2 linked regions of the Homo sapiens genome follow. The protein of the gene in region 2 purifies or fractionates together with the protein of the main gene of each other region. This does not show direct contact. Each region holds a gene or a part of one and is shown on either strand. Other genes may lie near its edges.

Region 1 (3,653 bases), on a different chromosome or scaffold from region 2:
ACATGGTGAAACCTTGTCTCTACTGAATATACAAAAATTAGCTGGGCATGGTGGCGTGCACCTGTAGTCCCAGCTACTCGGGAGGCTGAGGCAAGAAGAATTGCTTGAACCTGGGAGACAGAGGTTGCAGTGGGCCAAGATCGCGCCACTGCACTCCAGTCTGGCGACAGAGTGAGATTCTGTTTCAAAAAAAACAAAAAAAATGATGACTGCCTAGTTTTAGTTGACACTGGACATAAATACATGAAGAATTAAATACTGATGTAGTGAGAACATTTATTCTAACCTCCAATATTTGGAAAATTAGCAGTATAGATTTAAGATTGAGTTAGGGTGAATTAAAGATGTAGAATGTATTCATTGACTTTGAACAGTTGGTTTTATTTTATGCTTATTCTAGTGTCTTTCTTTAAACATGTATATTAGGATTGTTGTTGTTGTTACTTAGGGTTTTCTTGAGGGAGAAATAGAGTGAAACATAAGCATTGATTTCTTATGAAAGATGTCAGTGAAAATCATCATAAATGTATCCAGAGGCCAACATGGAAAACCAACTCATTTGTTTAAACTCTAAAAAAGTGGCTATGTAAAAACATAATTATTGTTAAAAAAAATGTAAAAATGTATATTTCAACTGATTATCTTTAACATTGGACAGAATATCGGGCTTATACTATGATCACATCATTAAATATTTTGAAATGGTTATTTATAATATTTTGTAAAGATTGCATTTAGATAATTTATTCTTTGTCCAATTTACTTTTATTAGGCAAGTCTTGCAGAAATCCACAGCAATATGTGGGTAAGAAATGGTCTGCAAATCAAAGGACAAGCCATGACGTATGTCCAGTCTCATTTCTGTAATTCCATGATTGATCCTGACATTTACCTGTTACAGGTAAGCCAGCTAGATAATGCAGATATACTTTAGAAGTGTCTCATTTGTACCCAAGGGATTTTAATTTATAGAGGTGACTGCGTGATGACATGGAGAGGCCAATGCCATTGAAAGAATAATTTTTTACTTACATTTCCCAGGAGAAGAGGCATACCACCCAACACAAGGCTACAAGGAAAGCACCAGATTTTGGTCAAGAGGCAGAAAGGAGTGAGGGGAGAGCCTAGGCCAGAGCCTTTATTGGGGTTTCTGCAGGAAAGGCAAGGAAAGGCAAGGCAGGATTGGCTAATTTGAATAATTCCAGCAGGCTTTGAGGCATAGGGGCTGTATCTGGCTCTGCGGTACCTGGCCCTGGGTTGATTTAGGGGAGGGGAAATACTGGGTTGATGTGTGAGAGTTAGATAAAGACAGTGGTTGGCTTGCATGACAGGCATTTTCCCAAGTAAGTTGTTTAGTATGTTCAGGAATTAACTGGCTCTGGGAGGGACTATCTGTCTTCAGGTCTGTAATGCCCCTCAAGATGTCAAAACATCATAATATACAGAAAATAAAAATCATAGCCAGGCGTGGTGGCTCATGCCTGTTATCCCAGCACTCTGGGAGGCCAAGGCAGGCAGATCACTTGAGGCCAGGAGTTTGAGACCAGCCTGGCCAACACGTCGAAACCCTGTCTCTACTAAAAATACAAAAATTAGGCAGGTGTGGTGGCACACACCTGTAAATCCCAGCTACTCGGGAGACTGGGGGATGAGAATTGCTTGAGCCTGGGAGGCAGAGGTGGAGGTTGCAGTGAGCTGAGGTTGCACCAGCTTGGGTGAGAGTGAGACTCTGTCTCAAAAACAAAAAACAAAAAACAAAAAACAAAAAAAAGTATAGAAAAACATGATTAATAGAAGAAGGAAAACTGAATATTGAGAAATAAAGCATTTTGTTTTCTTTTAAAGGTTTGTGCTTCTAGACTTGACCCAGATTATTTTATTTCATCCGTCTTTGAAAGGTAGGCATAATTTTATTAAGACAGGTATTAGGAAGTGTCCAGTTAATTTTGTTTTAATTTATAAAAATATGTTTCAAATATTTCTTCTTGTAGATTTAAGGTAGTGGATTTGTTGACAATGGCATCACAACATCAAAATACAGTACTTGATGCAGAGCATGAGAGGTCGATGTTAGAAGGCGCTCTTACATTTCTTGTGATTCTTTTGAGTCTTCGTTTACATTTAGGTAAAACTCACTGATACTAATACTTATGCATTAACTGTTTTCCTCCCTTTCTCCCCCTCCCTGTGGTAGTAACTGGCTTAGGGAAAAAAGGAAAGGATGTAGATAAATGTAAACAATGTTTCAAACTCTTGATATGTTGTACTGTAGGTATACCTTTTAGAATATCCTTTGCTTAAGGGAACTGCAAACAGCAGTTAAACTGCAGTTATGTTTGGAGCATAGCTTCTTTACTCTTTAATTTGAAGCATCTTATATTTGGTAAAACAGCTTAGTAAAAAGTGTGGTAAGTTTTTTTCTTTATAATTTATGTATACTCAGATTTGTTAATTCCGTTTTTAATAATTTTAGGAATGTCTGATGATGAGATTCTCAGGGCCGAGATGGTAGCCCAGCTGTGTATGAATGACAGGACACACAGTTCATTGCTGGACCTCATATCCTTTTAAAATTTTACTTTCTGTTAGTTGCAGGATCTAAAATAAGTATTTTTTATGATTAATAGTTTATCAATTTTTTGATTAATTTTTTTTCAAAGTTGAAAAATAATATAGAAAAAGAAGAACACCAGTTGTGTGCTCAAGTATGTATTCAAGCCTGGTGACTGTTTTTTTTTTTTTTTAACCTCCTGTTATTACCTCTTGGGGAACTCTTCTTAGACTTTAGGGTAGATTTCAGGACTGAATGATGGCTTTGGCCACCCCAGCATTTAACCTCCTAGTGGACAGCATTACTGAACGTTTTATAAAAGGCAGCTAGGTCCATTTTGTCTGTGTAGCCAGGATGCAATTCATGGTTAACAGTTAAAGGTATACCTTACGATTATTATTACCAGGATTTTAAACATTTTGAGGGTTTTTCTGTAGAATTTGGTCTTAAAGGATTTTTGAATTTATAGATTTTTGTGTACAAACAGGGAACCTGTGGTTCTTTGTATAGGACTGAACATACAATGAGAATCTGATTATCTTTTTAAGTTAATGTTAATAAAATTTTACACAAAGATTATCAAGTAATTTTGTGATAAAAATTCTGGCCGAATTTAGTATTTGTATATCTTATGACTATGTTTGGAAGAATTGGCTAAACTTTTTATTTTGTGAAATAAGTCCTATTAGAATGCCTGTTTGACAACCTTGATTTTTGTAAGCAGCCTCAATTTGATACTGTCTGATGATTTCCTTCAGTCATTATGAACTATGTGTCAGTGCTATTATAGAGTAAAAACGATCTCTGTGTCTTTCAATTTTAAAGATTTATGTGCTTTAATGTGAGGAGAGAATCTTTTTGGTTTGCCTCTTTGCTTATATTTGCTTAGTATTTTTTTCTTTGGGGATGAAATTTTGTGTTTTTGGAAAAACAATCTTTGCTCATAAAAATCTTGGCTAATTTTTCACAAGTTCTTTCTGTTTTTTAAGGAAAAGTTATTTACAAAATGGTAAAAATGAAGACACATTTTTAAAAGTTTTTCTATCGTTTTCTGAAATTTGATAAATTTATTTCGGGGAAAATATACCTGGGAACTACTGCA
Region 2 (3,753 bases):
GCCATAAAATGAGTCCGTGGCTCTGAATTTACAACACTCACATCCATATAGTGGCTGAGAAGAAGCCAAATTAAAATAGCATTTATTGGTGGCTTATCTGGCTCAGTTTTCAAAGCTGTTTAAGTGTTTGTTCAATTAAACCTCCAAAGAGCACTTGATGGAATGTGTGATTACCCAATAGCGCAAAATGGAAAATTCTGTGGTCCAGATAGAATAAATTACTTTCCAAGTTGACAAAACATTATAAATTGATGTTCTGATTCTGCGTTCAGAATCCTTTCTAAACAACAGGATGCATCTACCTTTCCAAACTGGGGAACAAATGATCTACTCAGGAAGATAGCAGGTTGTTTTCAAAATATTTCTTGTAAGTATGGAGCCCAGAATTACAAGTATGGAGCCCAGAAATGTGATGAAAACCACCACCTCTCTCATATTCTAGGTGACCTAAGTTCTTTCTGGAAGTTTTCAATGGGTTTATTTACAGGCATTTATTAAAATAAAATATTAAAAGACAAGTTAACTGAGGTAAATAAAAATCTGCCTATGCTAGCACTATTAATAACAATAAAAAATTGGCATCACCCTAATTGAGCAACAATTAAAGAATATTAGTATAATTAAAATCCACATATGTGATGGAATATGACACCAGGCATCTAAATTCATGTTCAATATATTTAGAGATCAAGAAAATGTAATAGTGCATTTCTAAGTGAAAAAACAATATATATTATAAAAGTTGAATATTGTAATAAAACATATGTACCTGTGTGATTATGTATATATATTTAAACTGGAAGAATATAATTTTATATATATTTAATAGGTACCTCTGAGTTGTAAGATTTCACACCTTTTTATTTCATTTGTATATTTTTTGTTTTATATATTTTATTTCATTTTGTATGTTTCTTTTTTTTCATATTTCTATTTGGCCATTTCTATTTGTATGTTTCTACTTGCTCCGCCTCCCTCTCTTTTTTGTATATTTCTATTTTATAAATTTTCTAAGTGAGCATATATTTTCTTTGTATAAGAAAAATAGCTTTTTACAGAAGGAATGGTAGAGGCCAGAAGTTCAGATAATAGGAGGACCTTAAGCTATAATAATATATCTTCCCTGTTAAAATGGCAAAGGCTCTGGGTTACTACAGGCACAAGGCTGGATCTACTGCAAATGGTATCCAAGGATCTCATCTGTCACTGCAACCTCCTGTACCAGCCTTTTCTTTATTAGATGTTTCCACACATGTTTTCATTCTGGTCCTAATACTGGTCCTGGTCTTGATACTAATTATTGTTGTGGAACATGTTATATTCTTTCTGCTTGCTCTTTCCTACTGTGGGATGTTTTCTCATGCTATTGCCTCTCTTGAATTGCCTGCTAATGGCTGCCCTTTCCAGTGATCTCTTCTTACCCTCCTCAGGTCTTCCCCTGCTGAGGTTTGATGCAATCTGAATGATGGATCTCCAGGGCCTGCTCAGTCCAGCACACAATGCCTCAGTGACTTTTCTGTCCTACGCAGCAGTTACTCTATTTCCTCCTGGGGCCCTAATACATGCTTCTTAGAAGGAGCACATTATATTCCTCTTCCTTTTCTCTTCTTTCTGAGGTGGGTCAGCTGTGACATGAGGGATGGAGAGAGTGGGCCTCTGTGTTTTGCTCTAGTTTTCTGGCTGCAGCTGAACTTGTACTGTTCCTGTTCCATTTCTGGAGGAAGCCAGGGAAAATATCAGGATGAGATGGGGGTGTGTTTAGCAAAACATGGTGTCCCAGATTGTGCCAGGAGTAGGCATGGTAGGCAACCTTTCATAGTGTACAAAGAACTTGCAATCATCCTGAGAGTAGAATACTCTGGCTACATTTTAATGTCTTAAGTAACACCTGCCACATCAGAGCACATCAGCAGAGTTTATATAAATTATCCATTGACATGTGTTGCAGACAGAGATAAAAGCCTAGAGAACATATGGAAGACCAGGCTACTTTTCTAGAATTAGGAATGGAGGAACAGTTAAATGTGGTCCTTGGTCAGGCCCTGGAAACTGCAGTTTCCATTCTCTGGGGTCAGAAATGTTGCTACAAGGAAAGTCCATCCCGAGGGAGGATTTGCTCTCTGACTTTTCCCTTTCTGTGTCTGGATTAAAATAGCTGTGGGACCCCAGTGAGATGGCAGATAATGATTTTTCTCCCTGTGAATGTCCTCAAAGAGTCTGGGATTCAACATCAGAAGATCCTTGGTATAGACAAGCATGCCTGAATCATCAGAAATCTTTGTCTTAATCCAAAGAGGTATTCTTTGCTTGACGAGCAAGTACAGATCCACTCCACTTATTGAGAAGTTCATGTTGTCTAGGGACCTCAATAGCCCCATCTTTTTTTTTGCATCCCCTCAAAAGATAAATTTAGGTGAAGCTTCAGGTAAGGAGTTGCTTTTTCATGACATGTAAAATGTTTTCCCACTAAAATAATACACTTATGCCCACAGAGTAACCTATGATTTACTTCTGAGTATTCAAAGATCTGTTACTGAGCTCTATACTTTTAATCAAGATAGTTATTCAAGGTTTAACTTTTTAAACATTTGTTTCTGAAGAAGAATGGAATAGGCTTTCCAAATACATAGTACTGAGGATACAATGGGTGGAGTAGAGATGGCTCTTCATTGTAAAAGTCATCTTAAATCCTGATTGTCTCTACTTTAGTGATTGTATTAGAGGGCAACAACCTGAGACAATATTTCAGAGCATCATTCCAAGGACACACCAGGAGGAAAAATGGCCAAATCTTTCCCAGTATTCTCACTTTTGTCCTTTATCTTGATACATTTGGTGTTATCTTCTGGTGAGTAATTTAGCTGGTCTTGGCCAGCAGTTGAAATTGATTTGTGGGCTTTTACATCATAATCTGAGAGAGAATGCTTTGAAATTGTTCTTTAACTGGGATGAATATATATATATGTGTATATATATATAAATTATCCATTGACGTGTTGCAGAGTGTATATATGTATATATATATTTATATATATACTCAGAGTATATGACAAAATGAAGGTCTCTGCCCATTGAATCAGTATTTTAGACTCTCTCTGTCTCTATATTTGTATATACACACATATACATATACATATATATACACACACATGTATATATATACTCTGAGTATACTCAGAGTATATATATGTATACACATACTCAGAGTATATATATATATATACACACACACACACACACACACATACATATATATATATATAGAGAGAGAGAGTCTAAAAGACTGATTCAATGGGCAGAGACCTTTGTTTTGCCATCTTTTGCATGCCGATTATGAGATTTAACTCATGAGGGCAAGGAGGCTTGGGTGACTCACTGAGGTAACATGTAAAAGTGACTAGCAATATAATATGCATACATGAGATCACATCTGGAAAATTTAGAGTGTTTGATTTGCTGTGTATTTGACTGGACCATTATCTTTTGTGCCCTCTTCTAGAGAAGAAATCATGTAGGGAGTCATAAAGAGGCCTAGCCTCAAGGGCTGCAGAGCTTGCTTTTTCACATATCTACCAAGAATTCCTGAGTATTACCCAGGTGTCTTTCATGCCTAAAAAAATATGATGATTGGGCCAAAAGATCACTTTAAAGTTACAGCATTGCTTATTTCTTTCATACATAGATTACCAGCTCTAAGTCCTCTCAAGTCCAAGCTAATTAGGAAAATTATTTAGTACACTGGACTGCCAGCCT

The links. Proteins that work in one complex are often made in the same cells at the same time.
Region 1: the proteins of SPINK14 (region 2) and UBR3 purify together in Homo sapiens (affinity purification with mass spectrometry; one large-scale study listed by BioGRID and IntAct). This does not show direct contact.

What each region holds. Positions count from the first base shown.
Region 1 is NC_000002.12:169,924,847-169,928,499, forward strand, and holds part of UBR3 (E3 ubiquitin-protein ligase UBR3), read left to right. Parts: intron 1-772; coding exon 773-901; intron 902-1,845; coding exon 1,846-1,898; intron 1,899-1,991; coding exon 1,992-2,125; intron 2,126-2,473; coding exon 2,474-2,559; intron 2,560-3,653. UniProt on the Homo sapiens protein: E3 ubiquitin-protein ligase which is a component of the N-end rule pathway. Does not bind to proteins bearing specific N-terminal residues that are destabilizing according to the N-end rule, leading to their ubiquitination and subsequent degradation.
Region 2 is NC_000005.10:148,166,952-148,170,704, forward strand, and holds the start of SPINK14 (serine protease inhibitor Kazal-type 14 precursor), read left to right. Parts: upstream 1-1,594; 5' UTR 1,595-1,616; intron 1,617-2,493; exon of another isoform or gene 2,494-2,709; 5' UTR 2,710-2,781; coding exon 2,782-2,848; intron 2,849-3,753. UniProt on the Homo sapiens protein: May be a serine protease inhibitor.